Regions from separate parts of the Homo sapiens genome. Here all the other regions are linked to region 1. The links come from fine-mapping of genetic effects on gene expression. A gene starts in region 1. Each other region holds a variant in brackets. All regions are shown on one strand. Distances are between the middles of the regions.

Region 1 (5,144 bases):
CCAGCACTTTGGGAGGCCAAGGCGGGTGGATCACGAAGTCAGGAGATGGAGACCATCCTGGCTAACATGGTGAAATCCTGTCTCTACTAAAAATACAAAAAAATTAGCGCCTGTAGTCCCAGCTATTCGGGAGGCTGAGGCAGGAAAATGGCGAGAACCTGGGAGGCGGAGCTTGCAGTGAGCCAAGATCGCGCCACTGCCCTCGAGCCTGGGTGACAGAGCGAGACTCCATCTCAACAAATAAAAAAAATAAAAAAATAAAAAAACCTGTGTACTTAACTGGTGAATCGTGTCTTCCAGAGGACAAATCTGGCCTACTCCAGCCTATTCTAGTTGGATGGAACACCTCACCTCACACCCGACAGCCCATTCGACCTCGTTCATTCCCCGTGGAGACCCATCAGTAACAGCCCTGCCCTTCATTCAGCCGCTATTCCCATTTTACAGACGACTCAATCGAGGCACAGAGACGCTAAGCACACTCGCCCAAATGTGAAGTAGCAGGGCCAACATTCAATCCTATCTACTGGCTTCCAGCAAAGGGATCACTGGCGTTTCCTTTGATGCCAAGATTTCTAAGCTCTGATGTTTGTGAGCTGCAGCCCCCTGACAAGAGTATCAGGCTCCGGTTGAACAGAGAAGTCCAAAGCAGGGCGAGAACGGACGAATAATCACAGAGTCCCGCTGCCAGCCACCGGCTCAGAAGCCTTGAATTCTCCTAGCTGGGCGGGCCCGGGAGGGGGTTCCTCAGCCTCCCGCTTCCCTCAACACCCTGCGACCCCCGCCCCAGCCTGCCCAGGTTTCCTGCTCCCAGCACAGCAGGTGCAGCCAGCCATGTGCACAAAGGCCAGGCTGGTTCCCTGGGCTGCACTCGAGCAGCTCCTCCCAGCCCTGCACACATGGGGCAGCAGCTCTACCCAACCTCTCCCAGGGGTTCTGGGGAGGAGGGAGCAGGGGAGGGGGCGGGGAGGGCCCAGAGAAGGGACAGTAGTGCCCTGGGGGCCCCTGGGCAACCCAGACATGGAGGGGGGGGCAAGCTTGTGCCTGGCCACCTATGCCAGTGCCACCAGGTGCTGGGGGGGACACGGAAAGGACAGGAATCTTGCCCTCACCTGGCTCCCGAGCCAGGGGCCGGGGCACCCTGTGAGGACACTCAGAGGGAGGGAGTGTGCAAAGCCTGCAGGGCCTGGGAGGATGCGTGCTGGGGCTGCCTCTCCCAAATCCTGCTGGGGCGCAGGCTCTCAGGGTGGCTTCTGATGACAAATCCAGGCAGTAATAAGGGGCCCAGGGCATCACATCCCATAGCGTCATGAGACCAGCCCAGGGTGCCAGATGCAGGGCCCTGAGTGGGGAGGGTGCTGCTCTGGGCACCTGCTTTCTGCCCTCCCTCATTCACCCCTCCCCAGACTTTGATGAAACCATCTGTGGCTCCCGGCCTCTGCAGGACCCAGCCCCTCAGCTCCTCAGCCCCTGCAGGTGTCCCTCGGTACTGCCTCACGCCATCCTGCCCCAGGTGATAACTATGCCCTGAGCCCCCACCATTTCCACTGGGCACATCCCAGAAATACGCATTCACAGACCAGGCACGCCCATGACTGCGGCCAGATTTTAAAAGGAATCACCAGAAATGTAATCTCCAGTGGTCCTAGAGCCCCCTGGGCACCCAGCTTCTGGCACCCTGTGGACACCCAGGAGTGGGGGTCGGCCCAACCAGCTGCGCAGCCGCCCAGCCCTGCCAGCGGGGAGCTTCCTCCCTCCCTGCCCTCCGGATACACCCTCACCCCAACTGAGCGAGCCCAGGGTTGGGGGAGGTGCATAGTTCCCTTCCTAGCCGGTGCGAGAAATTGCGGAGAACAGGGAAGAGGGTGGCAGGAAGGGTCTGGTGCACGATACCCGCCGCGCCCGCTCGGAATCCTGGTTCCCTGGAGCGCTCACCCCAGCCCGCCCTGCCCCGGGGAGCGCGAGGGGGCGACCCGCCAGGCTGCACCCGGGCGGGGCGGGGATGGCGGCGGGGGCTGCCTCCCTCCTCCGCCGCCACCCCCCACTGCTGGGCGCGCCGCGCGGCCGCCGGCTCCGTGGAGACGCGCAGAGCCGGGAGGGCGCGGGCGCGGCGGGAGGTGTGCGGGGCTGGGGTGCGCGGAGAGCGCGAGGGAGGAGATTCTGAGCGAGGGAGGGGAGCGCGCCCGGGCAGCAGTGCGTGCGCTCCTCCCGGCGCCACAAGCTCGCCCCGCGCAGCCCGAGCCGGGCTGGGCGCTGTCCTCGGGGGCCTGGGGAACCGCGCGGTTTGGAGATCGGAGGCACCTGGAACCCGTGGCAAGCGCCGAGCCGGGAGACAGCCCGAGGAACCACGGGTTCTGGAGCTAGGAGCCGGAAGCTGGGAGTCCGGAGGAGAGCGGAGCCCGGAGCCCGGAGCCCGGGGCGGCGCGTCTGGGTCTGGCGCTTCCCGACTGGACGGCGCGCCCGCTGGTCTTCGCCACGCGCCCTCCCCTGGGCTCCCGTTCATCGGTCCCCGCCTGAGACGCGCCCACTCCTGCCCGGACTTCCAGCCCCGGAGGCGCCGGACAGAGCCGCGGACTCCAGCGCCCACCATGCGCCTCAACAGCTCCGCGCCGGGAACCCCGGGCACGCCGGCCGCCGACCCCTTCCAGCGGGCGCAGGCCGGACTGGAGGAGGCGCTGCTGGCCCCGGGCTTCGGCAACGCTTCGGGCAACGCGTCGGAGCGCGTCCTGGCGGCACCCAGCAGCGAGCTGGACGTGAACACCGACATCTACTCCAAGGTGCTGGTGACCGCCGTGTACCTGGCGCTCTTCGTGGTGGGCACGGTGGGCAACACGGTGACGGCGTTCACGCTGGCGCGGAAGAAGTCGCTGCAGAGCCTGCAGAGCACGGTGCATTACCACCTGGGCAGCCTGGCGCTGTCCGACCTGCTCACCCTGCTGCTGGCCATGCCCGTGGAGCTGTACAACTTCATCTGGGTGCACCACCCCTGGGCCTTCGGCGACGCCGGCTGCCGCGGCTACTACTTCCTGCGCGACGCCTGCACCTACGCCACGGCCCTCAACGTGGCCAGCCTGAGTGTGGAGCGCTACCTGGCCATCTGCCACCCCTTCAAGGCCAAGACCCTCATGTCCCGAAGCCGCACCAAGAAGTTCATCAGCGCCATCTGGCTCGCCTCGGCCCTGCTGGCGGTGCCTATGCTGTTCACCATGGGCGAGCAGAACCGCAGCGCCGACGGCCAGCACGCCGGCGGCCTGGTGTGCACCCCCACCATCCACACTGCCACCGTCAAGGTCGTCATACAGGTGAGCCTCAGTAACCAGCCCCGGGGCTCCCCTCTCCTTCACCCCAAAAGCAGTGCCAGTGGTGTGCCTTCTGGGTAGGGAGTGGGAGAGATGTCACAGAGACAGTCTACTCCTGCGAGGCTGGGAAGGCGGTTGGGGCAGCTTGGGGGCAGCTCCAGAGTTGCCAGGCTCAGCCCCTATCTTCTTCCCTCCTGTTGAGGGGATGGAGCCCCTGCCTGTGACCTCTCTGGTGTTGGTGGCTGGGCCTCGGACATCTCTGAATTCCTTAAGCCTAATGGAAACATGTGCGCTGGCACCTGCGTCTCCAAAGGAAGAGTAACACTTTCATCAGCTTCTCAAAAGACTGTGCCACCAACAGGTGATGTTCCTTCCTCTGCAGAGAAGCCCCCAGACTGGCTCTGCCGGTGCCTCCCAGCTGCCTGCCCTGACCCAAACTTGGGAGTCAGAACAGAACCTGATGCCGTGTTGGGCCAGTTCCTAGTTTAGCCTCAGCTTTCCCATCTGTGTGATGGGGTAGTGATAGCATTGACCTCAGAAGGTAGAGCATTGGAGAGAGGACGCGTGGGAAGTGTTTGCATGGCCCCTGACACATAGAAGGGCTCACAGGCACTATTATTGCGGGATGGTGGGGACGATGTTTCTGCGGGGAAGGTTGTGAGGATCTGCGTGTGGCGGCGGTGTTGTGGTGAGGTGTGTAAAACTGGAGCCGAGTGACTAAGGGCCCTCCAAGGGTCTGAGCAAAGCGCCGTGGGAATGCGGGTGGGAAGCCCCCTTGGGAATCAGTTTGGCTGAGGTTCGTGGCACGGGGGGTTCCAGTGCTGGAGGGGAGGGCTGATCAAACCAAAGCCCCGAGCAGGAGGCTGGTGTCCAGGGAGGAAGTCAGGGCCGGTCGGGAACTTTGAAAGGCATCTTGGAAATGAGCAGCCTTAGAAGTGTGGGGTTTCCTCCATTTCTGGTGGGCTAAGGAAGCCAGAGGGTGAAGGATCCGGGCAGAGTCGCCTACCTCTGCCCAGCTAGAGGGGCCAGGGTGGCTGGCTGTCCCCCCAACTCCCCACACACCAGCATCGCCAGCCTCCCAGCTAAGCTTCTGTAGTTGCCTGGGCACCCCGCGTATGCCAGTATGCCCGGTGGGGGTGAGGGCAGCAGTGCCGGGCAGGGGGTCACCTGTCTGTCACTCCCTGGGCCCTAACTGACCCTCCACTGGCCACCACCCAGGTGGGCTGGGGGGTGGAGGAGGGTAGAACTGAGCTCCCAGTCTCCCTGGCTGCACATAGAACTGGTGGCTACAGGTGTCCCATCTCGGGGAGGCCCCTCCCACAGACACTGGTGGCAGGCAGTGAGTCAGGGCTGCTTTGCTTCTGCGGCGAGAGTCCCTCCCCTCACCAGAGGCAGAAGTAGGCACGGCCTGTGGGGTAAACACAGTGAGAAATGACCTCTCCCTCCCTTTGAGGCTTTATCTGCTCTCCCCAAGCTCCTGTCTTTGATTGGCATTGGCCAGGGGGAACCTCTCCCCAGTCCGCGTGGAGGGGCCCCAGGGGCGACAGCCACTCAGTCCTTCAGAAGGTGGGCAGTGGAGGGGTCAGCGCTGTCACTGCCCACCCAGGAGATGCCCCCACTCAGACCCCGGATCCCCCCACTCAGACCCCCGATCCCCCCGCTCAGATCCCCGATCCCCCCGCTCAGAACCCCGATCCCCCTGCTCCCCTGGCAAAAGGCCAGGAGCTCACCAGCCTCCTGCAGTCCTCAAAAACAAACAGCCGAAAAGCACAGGGGCGTGAGGACAGCTCGGCTCCGCCCCCCGGAAAGTGTCCTCCCCGCGTGCGTGGGCTCTCTGCCAGGTAC
Region 2 (5,144 bases), 20 kb after region 1:
CACCAGCAGGACCTCGCTTAGCACGGCATCCCCACTGCCTGCCCACCGGTCCCCAGGAGAATCAGCCATCCCAGGCATAGCAGGCTTTAGGATGCTGAGATTGCCTGGGCATGCTGGCTGGTGCCTGTGGCCCCTGCCTGGGAGGCTGAGGCAGGAGAATCGCTTGAGCCTGGGAGGTCAAGGCCGCAATGAGTCGTGATGGCACTACTGCACTCCAGCCTGGACGGCAGAGCAGGAACCTGTCTCAAAAAAAAAAAAAAATGGTGGGAATGGCTTCACAACTGTGGAGTGCTTTTCTCATTTTACTAGGTGAGGAGGAACAGGTCCATGCTCCCCGAGGCACAGGCACCTAAGACAAGCCTGGCCCCGGCCGCGTTAGTGGAGAAGGCTACAGATGGCCAAGATGCTCACAGGACGGGCACTTCCTGCCCAGGATTCCAATGTGGCCCCATCCACACTGGGATGGTTTTGAGAACCAGGTGACGGCAGGTGCACCTGTCCTCTGAGCCCCATCTGGAAACTGCTTTGTGGACAACCGTGGCCTTGGATGAAAGGGGTCCTTGCCAGAGCTTGTGGGGTGCACAGCTGGAGGAGAAGGGTTTCTGCATCACCTGTTTTCATTGGTTCCAAGGCTCAAGGCCCTCCTGGAGTCCCCGAGAGACCGCCTCATCCGCCTGGGAAGCGGGTTGCCTGCATAAGCCAGGGCAGGACACACCAGCCCCACACAGGAGCCCGTGAGGGCTCCGCACTGCCCCCACCCTGAGCCGGGCTCCTGCAGGCTCCCCGGCCCCACAGACCTGTCACCACGTAGATGCGCTCTCTCCGGCTCACAGGGCCTGAGGACAGGGTTTCCTCTCCACCCTCAGGGAGCAGCAAGGGCTGGGTGGAAGTGGGGGGTCCCAGCAAGTCCCAGCCCAGAGTGCCAGGAACAGGTGAGCTGGAGTGAGGAGTGAACACTGAAAACACACAGGCTGTCACCGCCTGGGGCCACGGGTTCTGCCCCAGAGATAGCGCCAGCTGGACTGCCGGCGGGTCTGGAGCCACCTCTGCACCTTGCCCGGCCGCCGGGCTCAGCACCGGTCTAAGGAGAGTCCGCTGTGGTACGGCCGCTGGGCAGTGGCTCTGAGCCCTCCGCCTCCAGCATCGAGGTGACTGAGGGGATAGCACAGAGAGGGTGGCTGGACGTGGATTTCCTGGAGGGGAGGCGGGAGTGCCTGAGCCACAAACAGGTTTCATCACAAAACCTGTGTCTGGCGTGGTGGCAGGGGGACCTGTGGGCTGAAAGCAGCAGCCCCTGGATCAGCAAATGGCCCCGGCCTCAGAACTGCACAGCAGCGGCCACCAGGGCCACAGCCGAGGGCCAGAGTGGGAGAAGAGCAAGGGCAGGCGGGTATGGGTGCCATGGCAAGGGTGGGGCCAAGTGGGCAAAGGGACAGACCTGTGTTCCCGGCGCTCCCGGCGTGGGCCGACCCAGCACCTGGGGCCTGCACTCACTCACCTCCTGTCACAGCAGATGGTGCTGGGGACCCAGCGAGGCCTCAGGGCTGCCCCAGGCCCACGGTGCCTGCAGGGCCAAGGAAGGGCCAGTCTAGGCCCGGCCCCATCATCTGGCTCTTTACTCCCCCTCCTGGGGCTCCTTATGACCACAAGGACGAGCCTTGTGGATGAGGGGTGTGGACTGGACAGCAGGGAGGGCTTCCTGGAGGAGGGGCTGAGTCGGCTTTGAAGTCAGGGGAAGGGAGTGGTGCACAGGTCCCCCCGAGTCTCCCAGCATCCGAGCCTTGATCAACAGGAGGGAGATGGGTACCTTGGGGTCGGTGCTCTCTCTTTCCCTCCCCGGCTACTCAGCTGGACCCCAGGGTCACCTCCTCCATGAAGCCCTGTTTCCCCATCCCTGCGGTCAGTGTGTGCGGCAGCCCCACCCTGAGGAGGGGGTGGAGCTGGGTGGGTGCAGACACTACTGGTGATGAACAGACAGACGTCCCCGCAGGAGGGGACGGAGCTTCCGTTTCCAGCACCAGCTTCATTCCCGGGGATTTTTACTGTTCAGTTTCTAAAAATGGCAGAAGTTCATTTCTTAACATCCCCTTGGCAAGGCTGCTTCCATTTCGGTGAAAGTGGAGGCCGTTTGTGGTTTTCTCTGCCTGCCGGAGGCTGGGCCACGGTGTCTGCGGAAGACGCTGTGTGCACAGCTGGGCTTTCTTTGTGTGTGCCAGCATTGCTCAGGAAGGGGAAGGAAAAGGAAACTGAGTCGCGAAGGGCAGGCCAACACCCGGAGGCCAAGCAGGTTTCACGGCAGCCACTTCTGCCAAACGCCAGAGGCACGTCCACCAGGTCACCTGGACAGCCCAGCCAGGTGCCCACCCAGTTTCTGTCACCTGCACCCAGAACCGGCCCTCAGTGGAGTCCTCGCTCCAGACAGAGGGGCTTCAGGACACTGAGAAGGGTCTTGGGGTAGATTCTTTTCTGAAGGAAGCCGGAGATGCTGAGTTGGAAAGGGA[C/T]CCTAAGACTGTCCCCTGACCCCACCCAGCCCTTCCGGCGACACTCAGAAGAAGCTGCTGGCAAGAGCCAAGAGATGGATGTCCAGTCCTCGGTCTGTGCACACCTGAGGGGCTCGTGCCCTGCAGGGAGCTAAACCTGAGACTGAAGCTGTATCCAGACACACTTACTCACGGCATGTCCCAAATGCCTGACACCCACAGATCCACCCAAGTCTGCTTCTCTGCTGTGCCTGCAGCCCCCAGGAGTGGCTATCTGCATGGTCAAAGCCACTCCTCCCAACTTGGGGGCTCCGGGAGGAGGGCAGGGTGGGGAGAGAGTAGCTCCCTGGGAGCCCCAGGGTGGCCTGCTCAACACAGGCTCTGTGGCTTCCAGCCCACTGGGGAGAGATGAGACAAAGGGAGAATGGAAAGATCTGGAATTTCTTTCGTGCATGGAGCGGGGGCAGTCCTCAGAAGCACAGCCTGAGACAGGGATTGTGGTGCAGGTGATGGATGGAGGGTGGGCCCTCAGGGGAGGAGAGGGAAACACAGGTGACACAGGTGTAGCTCAGAGCCTTATAGCCTCAGGAATCTCCCCCAGGGGTGCTTCCAGAATGCAGACCCCAAGGCTCACCCCAGACCAACTGGATCAGAATCTCCAGGGCAGAGACCTAGAACTTGGGGCTAGGGGTTTCTAATTTTTTTTTTTTTTTTTTTTTTGAGATGGAGTCTCGCTCTGTCACCCAGGCTGGAGTGCAGTGGCACGATCTCAGCTCTCCACCTCCCAGATTCAAGTGATTCTCCTGCCTCAGCCTTCTGAGTAGCTGGGATTACAGGAGCCCGCCACCTCCCTCAGCTAATGTTTTATATTTTTGGTAGAGACAGGGTTTCACCATGTTGTCCAGGCTGGTCTCAAACTCCTGACCTCAAGTGATCTGCCTGCCTCGGCCTCCCAAAGTGCTGGGATGACAGGCCTGAGCCACCATGCCTGGCCATCTAAATTGTTATTAATAGACTTTATTTTTTAGAACAGTTGTAGAGAAGCGTTGAGCCCACAGGACAGCGGCTCCATGGTGTCTCCTGGCCCTCACCTGTTAATAACAGGTGTCTCCCTGTTATTAACATTTTGCATTAGTGTGGTACATTGTTACAATTAATGAGCCAATATTGATACATTATTAAGGAAAGTCTGCAGTTTATATTAGGGTTCATCAGTCTTGTACCTTCTGTGGGTTTGGACAAATGTGTAATGTCCTATATCTACCATCCCAGGATCCTGCAGAAGAGTTTCATTGCCCGAAAAAATCCTTGGAGCTCCACCTGTTTATTCCTCCCTCCCCACAACCCCTGGCACCCACTGATCCTCTTACTGTCTTTCCAGTTTGTCTTACCCAGAACGTCACACAGCTGGGATTATACCGTATGCAGCCTTTTCAGACCAGCTTCTTTCCCTTCGCAGTATGTAGTTGAGGTTTCTCCCTGTCTTTTCATGGCTTGATAGCTTGTTCTTTTTACGGCTGAATAATATTCCATTATCTGGATGTCCCCCAGCTTGTTTATTCACTCAGCTATTGATGGACATCTTGGTTTTTGGCATTTATGAAGAAGGCTGCTATAAACATACATGTGCAGGTTTCTGTGTGGCTTTCACCCCTTTGGGAGTAGAAATGCCAAGGAGGGCGATCGTTGGAACACGTGGTAAGGATACGTTGAGCTTTGTAGGAAGTTGCCAAAGTGCCTTCCAGCACGGCTGCGCCATTTTGAATTCCCAGCAGCCACGGGTGAGGGCGGTTCTGTTGCTCCGCAGCCTTGCCAGCGTTTGGTGTCGTCAGGATCTTGGTTTTGGTTTTTGTAGCCATTCTCATTTGATCTCATTGTTTTAATCGACATTTCTCTAATGACATATGATGTGGAGCATTTTTCTTGTGCTTATTTTTCCATTGCTACGTCTTCTTTGATGAGGTGTCTATTCAGATGTTTTGCCCATTTCTTCATGTTTGTTTCCTTATTGTTGAGTTGTAAAAGTTCTTTATATATTTTGGATAACACTCCTTTATCAAGTATTTTGCAAATATTTTTTCCTAGGCTGTATCTTGTCTTCTCATTCGTTTAACAGTGTCATTTTTAGAGCGTTTTTGTTTTGTTTTGTTTTTGTTTTTTCTTTTTTGTTTTTGAGACGGAGTTTCGCTCTTGTTGCCCAGGCTGGAGTGTAATGGCACAATCTCGGCTCACCACAACCTCCGCCTCCCGGGTTCAAGTGATTCTCCTGCCTCAGCCTCCCGAGTAGCTGGGATTACAGGCGTGCACCACCATGCCCAGCTAATTTTGTATTTTTAGTAGAGATGGGGTTTCTCCATGTTGGTCAGGCTGGTCTTGAACTCCTGACCTCAGGTGATCCACCCGCCTTGGCCTCCAAAAGTGCTGGGATTACAAGTGTGAGCCACCACGCCCAGCCGTGTAATTTCTTAATTTTAATGAAGTCCAGCTTATTCATTTTTTTTGTGGATTATGCTTTTGATGTTGCATCTAAAAACTCATTGCCAAACCCAAGATACCTAGATTTTATACCCAAGATACCTAGATTTTATTACCTAGAAATTTTATTATCTTGTATTTTATATTAAATAAAATGTGTTATTATCTATAAATTGTATTATCTTGCAT
Region 3 (5,144 bases), 32 kb before region 1:
CGGCCCTGTGTGTTCCCCGATGTCTCACAGTGACAAATGGGCAGAGGCAGGGGCTGTGGACTGACAGCATCCCCCAGTTCGTAGGTCGAAGCCCCAGCACCCAGTGTGATGGTGTTAAGAGCTGGGACCTCAGGGAGGTGACTAGGGTGAGATGAGGGGGTGAGGGTGGCCCCCCGATGGGATTCGTAGCCCTGTAACAGAGGAAGAGACCAAGCTCCTCTCTCCTCTATGTGCTGACACGACTAGAAGACAGCCGTCTGCAGACCAAGGAAAGGACCCTCCCTGGGAGCCCAGCCTTGCTCGTGGGCTTCGGGACTCCAGAATGTGGGTAAGGCACGTCCGTTGTTTGAGCCGCCAAGCTATGGTTCTGTGATGGCCGCCGAGCTGACGGAGGCTGTAGAGTTTCGACTCCGGTCTGGGGGCTCCAAGGACTGTCCCGCTCCATGCCCTGCCCCCACCCTGGATGCCAGGAAGGAAGAGAAACGCCCCGAGCTGCAGAGAGGACAGAGAGAGGGAAGGAAGAGGACCAGCATGTTCGCACAGGGCACACAGTGGAGGCTCCCGCCCAGGATGGAGGGCAGGTATTCCAGGGAGCGGCCCCCAAAGCGACTGGGTGTATGCTGGGCTGCTCATCGGCATTGCAAGGCATCCATCTCCCTGCCGGCAGTGAGACTTCGTGGTGCGTGATGGATGAGGCCACCAAGCCCAGATTCCCTTCCCAGGTCCAGGAGGGCCCCTCCAGTGGGCAGCCCGGGCTGCCGGCCACCCACGCGGGCTCTGCCACCCCTCAGGCAGCTCCCAAGAGCTGCGGGGTCTCTGCAGCTCTTGAGCTCTGCTGCCCTCGCCTCGATCTAAGCTCCCCTTGCCTTCCCCATTGACAATCCGCCTGGCTCTGACTCAGGCCCAGGGAGGAGACAGGAGCAGATGGCTGACAGGGACAGTTGGGACACAGGGGCAGAGAGGAAGCAGTCTGGTTGCAGCCTGGTCCCGGCCCCAGCCCCCCAGGCCTGATGACCCAGCCTCTGTGTGACTCAGTGCAGGGAGCGTGTGGCTCCTGGCCCTGCCACAGAGGCCAGAAGGCATCTGCAGATGCCCACACAGGCCCCCCGCTTCTCCGGGATCACGGGCGCACCCAGCCTGGTGGGCACATGGGCCCTGGATACGCCCTCGGCTGCATGCTGGCCTGGGTCCTGGATGCCTCCCACAGCCAGCCCCTGTCCTCCCACGTCCTGGGAGGAGCCCCTGGGATTAGCCAGGAAGGTGCCGGCCACAGGGCCCGGCTGCCTGTGGGGAGGAGAAAGACATGCATCCTGGGAGAGGGAGAGGCAGGCAGGAGTCCTCCAAGCCCACTTGGTTTTCCCTCGAGAGATTTTCCACGGCTGCTGGGATGAGGGCTGCGGGGGCCTCCTGTGTGCTGTGCACTAAATGTTCTTCAAGAGTCAGACGCCAGGAGCAGCTGGAAACGTCAAATTTTCTGGTTGTTGGACCAGTTCCTCTTATTCTTCTGTGCATTTAAAAATTATCACTGAATTCGGCCGGCTCGCCAGCGCACGCCTATAATCCCAGCACTTTGGGAGGCTGAGGCAAGCAGATCGCTTGAGCCCAGGAGCTTGAGACCAAACTGGGCAACGTAGCGAAACCCTGTCTCTGTAAAAAAAAAATACAAAACATTAGCCGGGCATGGTGGCGTGCGCCTGTAGTCCCAGCTACTTGGGAGGCTGAGGTGGGAGGATCGCCTAAGCCTGGGAGGTCAAGGCTGTCGTGAGCCATGAATGTGCCACTGCACTCTGGCCTGGGTGGCAGAGTGAGACTCTTTCTCAAAATAATAATAAGAAGAATTCCTACAACCCAACAATGAAAGGATGATCCAATTTAAAAATGGGCAAAGGATTTGACTTTTATTTCATCACAAAAGACATAGAAAAGGCCAACGAGCCCAGGAGAAGAT[G/C]CTCAAGATTTTCCCACTCAGGGAAGTGCAAACCAAAGCCACAGCGCTGACCGTATCAAAAACAAAAGCAACAAACAAACAAAACCAGAAAACGACACGTCGTGGAGAACTTGGAATCCTCACACACTATGGGTGGGAATGTAAAACGGTAAAATGGCACAGCCGCTTTGGAAAACAGTTTTGCGGTTCATCAAAAAGTTAACCATGGAATTAGCAGATGACCCAGCAATTCCACACCTAGTATCTACCCAAGAGAAATGAAGACATATGTCCACATAAAGACATGCATACAAATGTTCACGGCAATGTTGCTCATAACAGTCAAAAAGTGCACCAGCCCGAATGTCAACTGGCTGATGAGTAGGTAAATCAGCGTGGGCTGTCCACACAGTGGGTCTTGCTTGGCCGTCAATCAGAAAGAATGAAGCCCTGCGCTATGGTGTGCAGGTGCGCATGGACCTTGAAACATGCTCAGTGAAAGAAGCCAGACACAAAAGGCCACGTGTTTTGTGATTCTTTTGTAAGAAATGTCCAGAATGGACAAATCTGTAGAGACAGAAAATGGACTAGTGGTGCCAGGGGCTGGGGGAAGGTGAGGCGGGAGCGACTGTCATGGGTGCAGGGCGTTTTGGTGCAGTGATGAAATGTTCTGGAGTTAGATAACGGTGATGGTTGCACAACTCTGTGAACATGCTTAAAAAACCGAATTGTACACTTTAAAGGGTGAATATTTGGGGATGTGACTTATATCTCAGTAAAGCTATTATTAAATACATCCATCCATGCATTCATCGCTGACTGCCTGCCCTGTGCTTTCACTCCTGTAGACCATGGAGATCTGTTGGGGGATCTGTGTCTGTTCCATAACTTTCTGGTGTCTGTTCCATAACTGCAACTCTGCCAGGAGAGCATGTGTGGGCCCCATGTTCAGATGTACCACAATCTCCCTCCCTGCTCACTTCCTTAGGGTGGCAGGAGGCAGAAAGGGGGCTTGAGACCTACACTCCAACCCCACTGAGCAGAGGATGGCAGGAGGCAGGAAGGGGGCGTAGAGACCTGCACTCCAACCCCACTGAGGCAGATATTTTCCAACAACGGCCACAATATGTCCCATTTCCTCTGCTGGAGGTGGGGTCTGTGCACCCTCTTTTTGAGCCTGGCAGGCGATTGGGAGTGCCTCGTGGCAGAGGTGACACAGCTTCTACTGGCAGTGCCTTCTGGGAACGCTCAACTTGGGAACCCAGCGCCACGCTGTGAGCAAGCCCAGGTCATGGGAGCCCCCGCTCTGGCACCAGCTGTCAGCCAGGCCGAGTCCGCCGTGATGGGGGTGCCGTCTTGGGTGCTCCAGTCCCCAGCTGGGCTCTCTGTCCCCACTTCCCCTTAGGGGAGGGAATCAGCCCTTCCCACCTAGCCACACCTGCAGATTTGGGAAGGAAAGAAGTAAGGATGCTGTTTTCAGCCTGAGGGCCTCTGCTGTCAGTAAAGGCTTGAAAGAAAGTGAGGCAAAGGTTGATGGAAGCTGGAGGAAGGGAAAACCTCAGAAGACAGGAACAGTAGGTTATGCAGCGCTGTGGCCTGCAGGGACACAGAGGCAGAAAACGTGCAGATGCCCTGGGCGAGCGGCGACTCCAGGCAGAAACGCCAGCAGGCTTTATTGCAGCTGTGCATAAGAAGGAGAAGAGAGGGTTTTGTTTAACTTCAGTTTTCAAGCAAAATTTAGATAAAATTAAAGAAGTCAGGACTTAACAGAATTTAAAAGAAAGCTGTTGACAATGCCAAGTGCTGATGAGGACTCTGGTGGCTGGAACACTCACCCGTCGCCGGTAGACGTGGAGAGCAATACGGCCGCTCGGGAACCCAGCTCGACAGTTTACTATAAAGTTAGACCTGAACCTTCTTATAACACAGAAATTCCACTCCTAGAGAAAGGCAAAATTATGTTCACACAAAATCTTGTACACAAATGTTTCTTACAGCGCTATTCTTTTTTTTTTTTTTTTTGAGACCGGGTGTTGCTCTGTCACCCAGGCTAGAGTGCAGTGGTGCAATCTCAGCTCACTGCAGCCTCTTACTCCCGGGTTCAAGCGAATTTTCACAATCATCAACAAAATTGGAAACCACCCAAATGTCCTCTAGGAAGTGAAAGGATAAATAGTCGTACAGCCACACGATAGACTCAGCCGTGAGAGGGGGGCACTGTTAATATGCAACAGGGACGAACCTGGGAGGCACCACGCTGAGCAAAAGAACCAGACCCCAGAGGTTAGTAGTGTGTGGTTTCACTTACACAACAGCTTCCAAAAGGCAAAGCTGCAGGGATGGAGAGGAGACAAGCCGTTGCCAGGGGCTGGGGTGGAGAGGAAACTGTGGCTTTTAAAAGTAGCATGGGGCTGGGCAAGGTGGCTCGCGCCTATAATGCCAGCACTTTGGGAGGCCGAGGCAGGCAGATCACTTGAGGTCAGGAGTTCGAGACCAGCCTGGCCAACATGATGAAACCCCATCTCTACTGAAAATACAAAAATTAGCATGCCTGTAATCCCAGCTACTGCAGAGGCTGAGGCAGGAGAATCGCTTGAAGCTGGGAGGCAAAGGCTGCAGCAAGCCGAAATCACACCACTGCACTCCAGCCTGGGCGACAGAGCAAGACTCTGTCTCAGACAAACAAACAACAAAAAAGTAGCATGGCAGAGCTGCTCTGGGTCACGAAGCTATCTGTGTCCTGATGGTGGACGTGGTTCTGGGTCATGAAGCTATCTGTGTCCTGACGGTGGACGTGGTTCCACAAATCCATACATGTGTCAAAACTCATCAAATTCCTTTTTTTTTTTTCTGATACACATTCTCCCTCAGCCACCCAGCTTGGAGTGCAGTGGTACAATCATGGCTGACTGCAGCCTTGACCTCCTGGTCTCAAGTGATCCTCCCACCTCAGCCTCCCAGGTAGCTGGAAGTACAGGCACATAACCACCACGCCCAGCTAATTTTTGTATTTTTTGTAGATAGGGTGTCTTGCTATGTTGCCCAGGCTCGTTTCGAACTCCTGAGTTCAAGCGATCCTCCTGCATTGGCCTCCCAAAGTGCTGGGATTACAGATGTGAGCCACCATGCCTGGTTTATGGAATCACTTTTTACAAGCCAGTTTTACTGCACAATAGCTTAAAAAATAAAATCAAAAACACTGTTTCTCATTCCAAGA
Region 4 (5,144 bases), 23 kb before region 1:
GATCTCACGTGACCACGCGCTTCCCACACACGCTCACGCAACGATCTCACGTGACCACGCGCTTCCCACACACGCTCACGCAACGATCTCACGTGACCACGCGCTTCCCACACACGCTCACGCAAAGATCTCACGTGACCACGCGCTTCCCACACACACTCATCCCCCAACAGCAGTGGGAGGTCCAGGGGCATGTGGCAGCCCCAGGGGTCCTGGGTGTTCTACTTAACCTTTCTGTGCCTCAGTTTCTCCCCTCTGAAATGGGGCTGATACCACAGTCTCAGTTTCACTGGGGTGATGAGCTGGGGTGCCTGGATTATAGGAAGTGCAGTACATGTGTTTGTTAAATCACTAAAACCATCAGCACCTTTGCCTGACAGGTGAGGAAACCGAGGCACAAGGAGCTGATTGGCCCGTGATGGCCTCAGAGCTCATCAGCCAACCCCCACCAGGCTACGCTGCCTCTTCTGGGAGCCTCCGGTCTCCCCAGAACATCTATCCACTGGGGTTAGATTTGTCCAATGCCCCCACCACAATCACAGGGGAGACTGCTTGTCAGCACAGGGCCGGCCACCCTGGCACCAGTTCAGTCCCTAGGGAGGGTCTTTCCCTGGCATCCCAGGGACTGGGCTGTCATTTAAGTTTAGGCCACTGACACGAGCTCATTCATCCCCCCACTCCCTCCCTCAAGTTTCCTGAGTGTGCAAGCAAACCCCCCCACTGCCCTGGACACACTCATTCCCGCCAGGGCGATCAGGGGTCCCCATAACTCATCAGGGCAGCCCCCACCCCAGCAATCCCCACACCTGGAAGTCGCTCATTAAGACCTCATTAGCCCGTGCTCCACCTCCCACCCCATGGCCGTGGTGAGTTTAGTCTGCAGCAACGACCCGACCACACCAGCTGGGCAACGAGAGCTGCGAGAATGGCAGCACTGTCTACTCTCCACTTTCCCCAGAAAGGCCCGGCCAAAGCATGCACAGGCAGCCACGCCAGGGGCTCCTGCAGCACCTCAGAGAGACCAGTAATGGGGCGGATTAGCAGGGGCCAAGGGTCTGGGGTGAGGCCACAGTGCATGGAGTGCATGGAGGTTGGGGCACGTGTGACCAGCCAGGGTCATAAAACACACATGGTCAGAGCAGGGCACTCAGCTGCCGAGGAGGGGGGTGGTGGGGAGGCACGGGCAGGCCTTGGGTGCAGTGAAGCAGGCGGGCAGGGGAGGGTGGCAGCGGGGTGTGGGGGCAGGAGGAGGGGGGTGGTGGGGAGTGGGGGCTGGGTCGGGGCTGGGCCCTGGCTGCCCTGGCTGCCCCCCGACACCTTCCCCAGCTGGTCGGTGCCCAAGGGTGGGTTCGTGGGGCAACTGCACCCGCTCCCTTCCACTCTGCTGTGGCCTGACCAAGCGGGCTGTTTTCTTGCTTTGTTTGTTGTTTTTTTCTTAAGGAAGAAGAGAATGAATTTAGAAGGCTGTAAACCCCATCTGAGCCTTACACATAGATCTCCTTGAATTGGATTTTCACCAAGGCCGTGATGGATGTGGAGTCTCGGCTTTCTGACAACGTCTTCCAGAGCAGGCTTTCTCTAGAGGGTGGACTGCCTGTGTTCTCCTGGGAGAGAATGCATTTGCTTCCGATGCCCAGGGCACGAAAGAGGTGGACGAAACAACGGAAGTGGAGGGGGTGGATTCTCTACCTGGGAAACCCAGCATGGCACACTCATATAGAATTAAGATCTTATAATAAGTGTGCAGATGCGCCCGTTCTAAGGAAATAAAGGGTTCTGCCCTCCTAAGAATTCTGCCCTTGCAAGGGGTGTGAAACCTGCAGAGCTGCTTCCCGGCTTCTTCCTCCAGGAAGCCCTCCGTCCTCCTCCAAGCTGTAGACACAGGGCTGGTAAACAGGTAGCCAGGCGCCCCCACAGCCTCGGTGTGGATCCATGGCTGAGCAAGTCCTCCCTGGCCACTCCCATCTCTGATGACAGAACATACCATGATGAGAGCCGCTGAATTAGCAAGACAGTGTGGGGAAGGTACCCTCCGGGGACTGGGGGGCTTCTGGACTCCGAGAGCCCCTGCGTCCATTCCTGTTTATCGCGGCCACTTCCCATCTGGGCAGGGCAATCTCTGTACCTGGGGAGTGCAGCCGCCCATGGAGACGGCTCAGAATAATGAGCTGAGTGTCTCCGTGTAGCTCCCGCCCCAGTGCGGAGCTCCTGGTACAGGATGGCAGGTGGTGTCTAAATAGCTATTCATAAGGACATTATCTCCAAGCACCGGGTGGAAACGAGCCTTCCTCCCCCCAGCTGAGAAGTGACAGGCACTTCCCTGTTTACTGAGGACAACAGTCAACCGCAGAGCGGCGTGGAGCTCGCAGTTCTTCTCATGTCACAGTTGTGACTGAGTGTCATGTCCTAAAGCTTCAGGATGAATGCAACTCCGCTCCACCAAGGGCCGGGGACAGAGTGAGAAGACACTGGCGCCAGGAGCGGGGAAGAGGGGAGGGGCCGGCAGCTGCCTAAAGAGCAGGCCCTCCTGCTGTTTCTGAGCCCCC[G/A]AGGGCCCTCTGACCCCAGACACCTTCCCTGCCAGCTGAACACCATTCCAGAGTCAGATCTTGGTTTTGTTTTCTTTCTTTTAAAAATATTTTATTATAAGGTGAAAAGAAAAGGAGAGTACACTAAGTCTTAGCCATGGTTGGCCCTTTAGTCTGAATTAGTATATCAGCTATTTTACCAAGGGCAGGTTTGGACGGTGCAGAGACAGGAAGAGAGTATCAGAGTGCCCAGCACCACAGAGAAGGGGTGGCTGGCCAGGGCGCCCATTGCAGGCAGATGAAAAGGGTGCCCCCGAACAGGCACGATGGGTAGGGCACCCCCAAACAGGAGCAATGGGAAGGGCACCCCCAAACAGGAGCAATGGGAAAGGCACCCCCAAACAGGAGCAATGGGAAAGGGCACCCCCAAACAGGCACAATGGGAACGGCACCCCCAAACAGGCACGATGGGAAGGGCACCCCCAAACAGGCACAATGGGAAGGGCACCCCCAAACAGGAGCAATGGGAAAGGGCACCCCCAAACAGGCACGATGGGAAGGGCACCCCCAAACAGGAGCAATGGGAAAGGGCACCCCCAAACAGGCACGATGGGTGGGGCACCCCCAAACAGGAGCGATGGAAAGGGCGCCCCCAAACAGGAGCGATGGAAAGGGCACCCCCAAACAGGAGCGGGGGCCTCTGAAGGCAAGTGGCAGCAGCTTCCTAATCCTGGCCCCACGTTGTTCCAAAGGTCCATGAAGTTGACCAAACGCCACACAGCCACGGGAGACACAGTGGCCACCCTGGGGCGTCTACACTGAAGGCCAAGGGCATGTGGAGGAAGAGCCATCTGAGCCGAGGCCCGGGGAGGAGCCAGCAGGCCAAGGAGGCGGAAGAAACCACGCAGTGGCGTCCAGGGCAGGGCAGGTGCGTCATCCGGGCGGGATGCAGAGACACGTCCTTCCACCAACCATCTGAGGAGCACTTGGCACCCACACAATGAGCCCGGCAAGGGCCACGCCAGGAGGCAGCGCACGGGGCAGAGCCTCTGAGCCAGAGAGGGGGAGGTCCCTTGGGAGGCCCCTGCCATCCCCCGCTCTGGGTGGGCCTCTCCAGCCAGACTCTGCGCCCCAAGGGCAGGGCTGGGCCTAAGCCACACCTCGGGGTGCACGGGCTGTGGGGGGCCGCTCCTGGACACGGAAGGACGACACCGGCTTCCCTGTACCTCTGCTGGGGCCGCGGGTCCCATGTCGTCAGCGTGGCCACTAGGCTGCCAGCCTAGCACAGCCTCCAGGGCAGCCATGGCCCAACCTGCCTTCCGAGCCTCAGGGGTATCCCTGAGCACATGGGAGTGCAGGAAAAGGTACCCCAGGGGATCCCCACTCACCTCCCGGCCATGTCCTACCAGGCACTAGTGCCGCGCTGCAGCCACCCCCGGGCCTTACCCACCCCCACCAGCTTCATTGCCTTCCAGGTCCCAGCACCACCAGTTTCATTGCTTTCCAGGTCCCAGCACCACCAGCTTCATTGCTTTCCAGGTCCCAGCACCACCAACTTCATTGCCTTCCAGGCTCTCAGCAGCATAAGAGACCTACACACACACACACGTGCACACATACATAGAAGGGGCTGACTCACACGCCACCCCATATGCAAGCCGCAGAAGCTGGGCGTCCACTGAGCAGCAGAGATAGCCCATCCCAGAGGGCAAGGAGGATCCCTGGGGTCCCTACGAGAACACCTCGCCCAGGTCCTGCCCGCGGCCCCCCACGAGGCCTCTTTGGGAGGGAGGCTGCCCCCTACACCACTCAGTGCTAGGACTTACCCATGCACCCCCCAGCCCTGTGCAACCCTGCCCGTGCACCAATGACCCCACTCACCCCTGACCCTGCTCACCCCAACCCCGCTCACCTGTAGCCCCACCAGGTTCTTAAGCAAAAGCTCAGTCTGTGTGCACACAGCAAACACAATTCTGCCTATATTTTCTCGGGGTTTGGGGCTCACATTGGACACTGGAGGCTCTCTTGAGTGAGTAAGAGCAGCAGCTCAGGCTTTTGAAGGCAAAATGGAATGGACGCAGGGCCCAGGAGACACCAACTGGGTGAGAGCAGGGCTCCAGAGCCAGCAGATGGCTGGGGTGGGGGATGCATGCCCCCTGCCACCCACTCCAGCAAACCCGGTCCCCTGACTTGGGTTGTGTCCAGCAATGGCTTTCTGGGCTTGAAGGCAGAGCTGCCAGGAGGAAGGAGTCCCTCTGCAATGTCAGAAGCACCAAACACAGGGGAGACCTAACTTTCAGGGCCTGGGGGAAGCTGGGGTGGCCAGGCTGGTGGGAAGGAGACATTAACATTTTCCGAGAAGCCCTTTAATTCTTCCCAATAAACCGAACGAGTACAAGCCTCAGCATGGAAGCACAGCTTTCTAGAAGCTGGAAAATCAGGCTCATCACAAAAGCTCGAGCACAGTTAATTTCCTCTGACATTTCCTCCTGTGGTTAGTCTTGGAGCCAGCAGGTGGCCGGAGGCGCCCCATTCTTTCCCATAAATGGACGGTCTCTAAGGAATCAAGTCAGGCCCTCATCTCCAAACCCTCATCCCATTTTTCCCTGGCCTGCACGT

Alleles and levels. Alleles are on the strand shown, and positions count from the first base shown. SD is a standard deviation of normalised expression in the study named. Not every link is listed here.
In carriers of allele G in region 4, the expression in spleen of the gene that starts at base 2,217 in region 1 tends to be higher than with A alone (moderate effect, 0.42 SD a copy in GTEx).

What was found. PIP is the estimated chance that this variant, and not a neighbour inherited with it, causes the effect.
Region 2: its variant is the best candidate, but not a certain one, in a credible set for the expression of NTSR1 in whole blood (INTERVAL, PIP 0.67).
Region 3: its variant is the best candidate, but not a certain one, in a credible set for the expression of NTSR1 in monocytes (TOPMed, PIP 0.76).
Region 4: its variant is the best candidate, but not a certain one, in a credible set for the expression of NTSR1 in spleen (GTEx, PIP 0.77).

What each region holds. Positions count from the first base shown.
Region 1 is chr20:62,706,620-62,711,763 of GRCh38, forward strand. NTSR1 (neurotensin receptor 1) reads left to right here and starts at 2,217. Exons shown (of 4, transcript NM_002531.3): 1 at 2,217-3,302. The coding sequence starts at 2,589. RefSeq lists enhancers at 1,181-1,694, 1,695-2,207, 2,417-2,963, 2,964-3,508.
Region 2 is chr20:62,726,449-62,731,592 of GRCh38, forward strand. All of the region lies in intron 1 of NTSR1 (neurotensin receptor 1), which reads left to right. It overlaps NTSR1-AS1 (NTSR1 antisense RNA 1), which reads right to left. Exons shown (of 2, transcript NR_199009.1): 2 at 3,482-5,144. Among named protein-coding and RNA genes, the nearest start is that of NTSR1-AS1, 6.3 kb to the right of the region's middle. The variant C/T (reference allele first, on the strand shown) is at 2,502.
Region 3 is chr20:62,674,601-62,679,744 of GRCh38, forward strand. It overlaps a transcript of SLCO4A1 not described here. Among named protein-coding and RNA genes, the nearest start is that of SLCO4A1-AS1, 11 kb to the left of the region's middle. The variant G/C (reference allele first, on the strand shown) is at 1,949.
Region 4 is chr20:62,684,001-62,689,144 of GRCh38, forward strand. It overlaps a transcript of SLCO4A1 not described here. Among named protein-coding and RNA genes, the nearest start is that of SLCO4A1-AS1, 20 kb to the left of the region's middle. RefSeq lists enhancers at 1-38, 39-581. The variant G/A (reference allele first, on the strand shown) is at 2,547.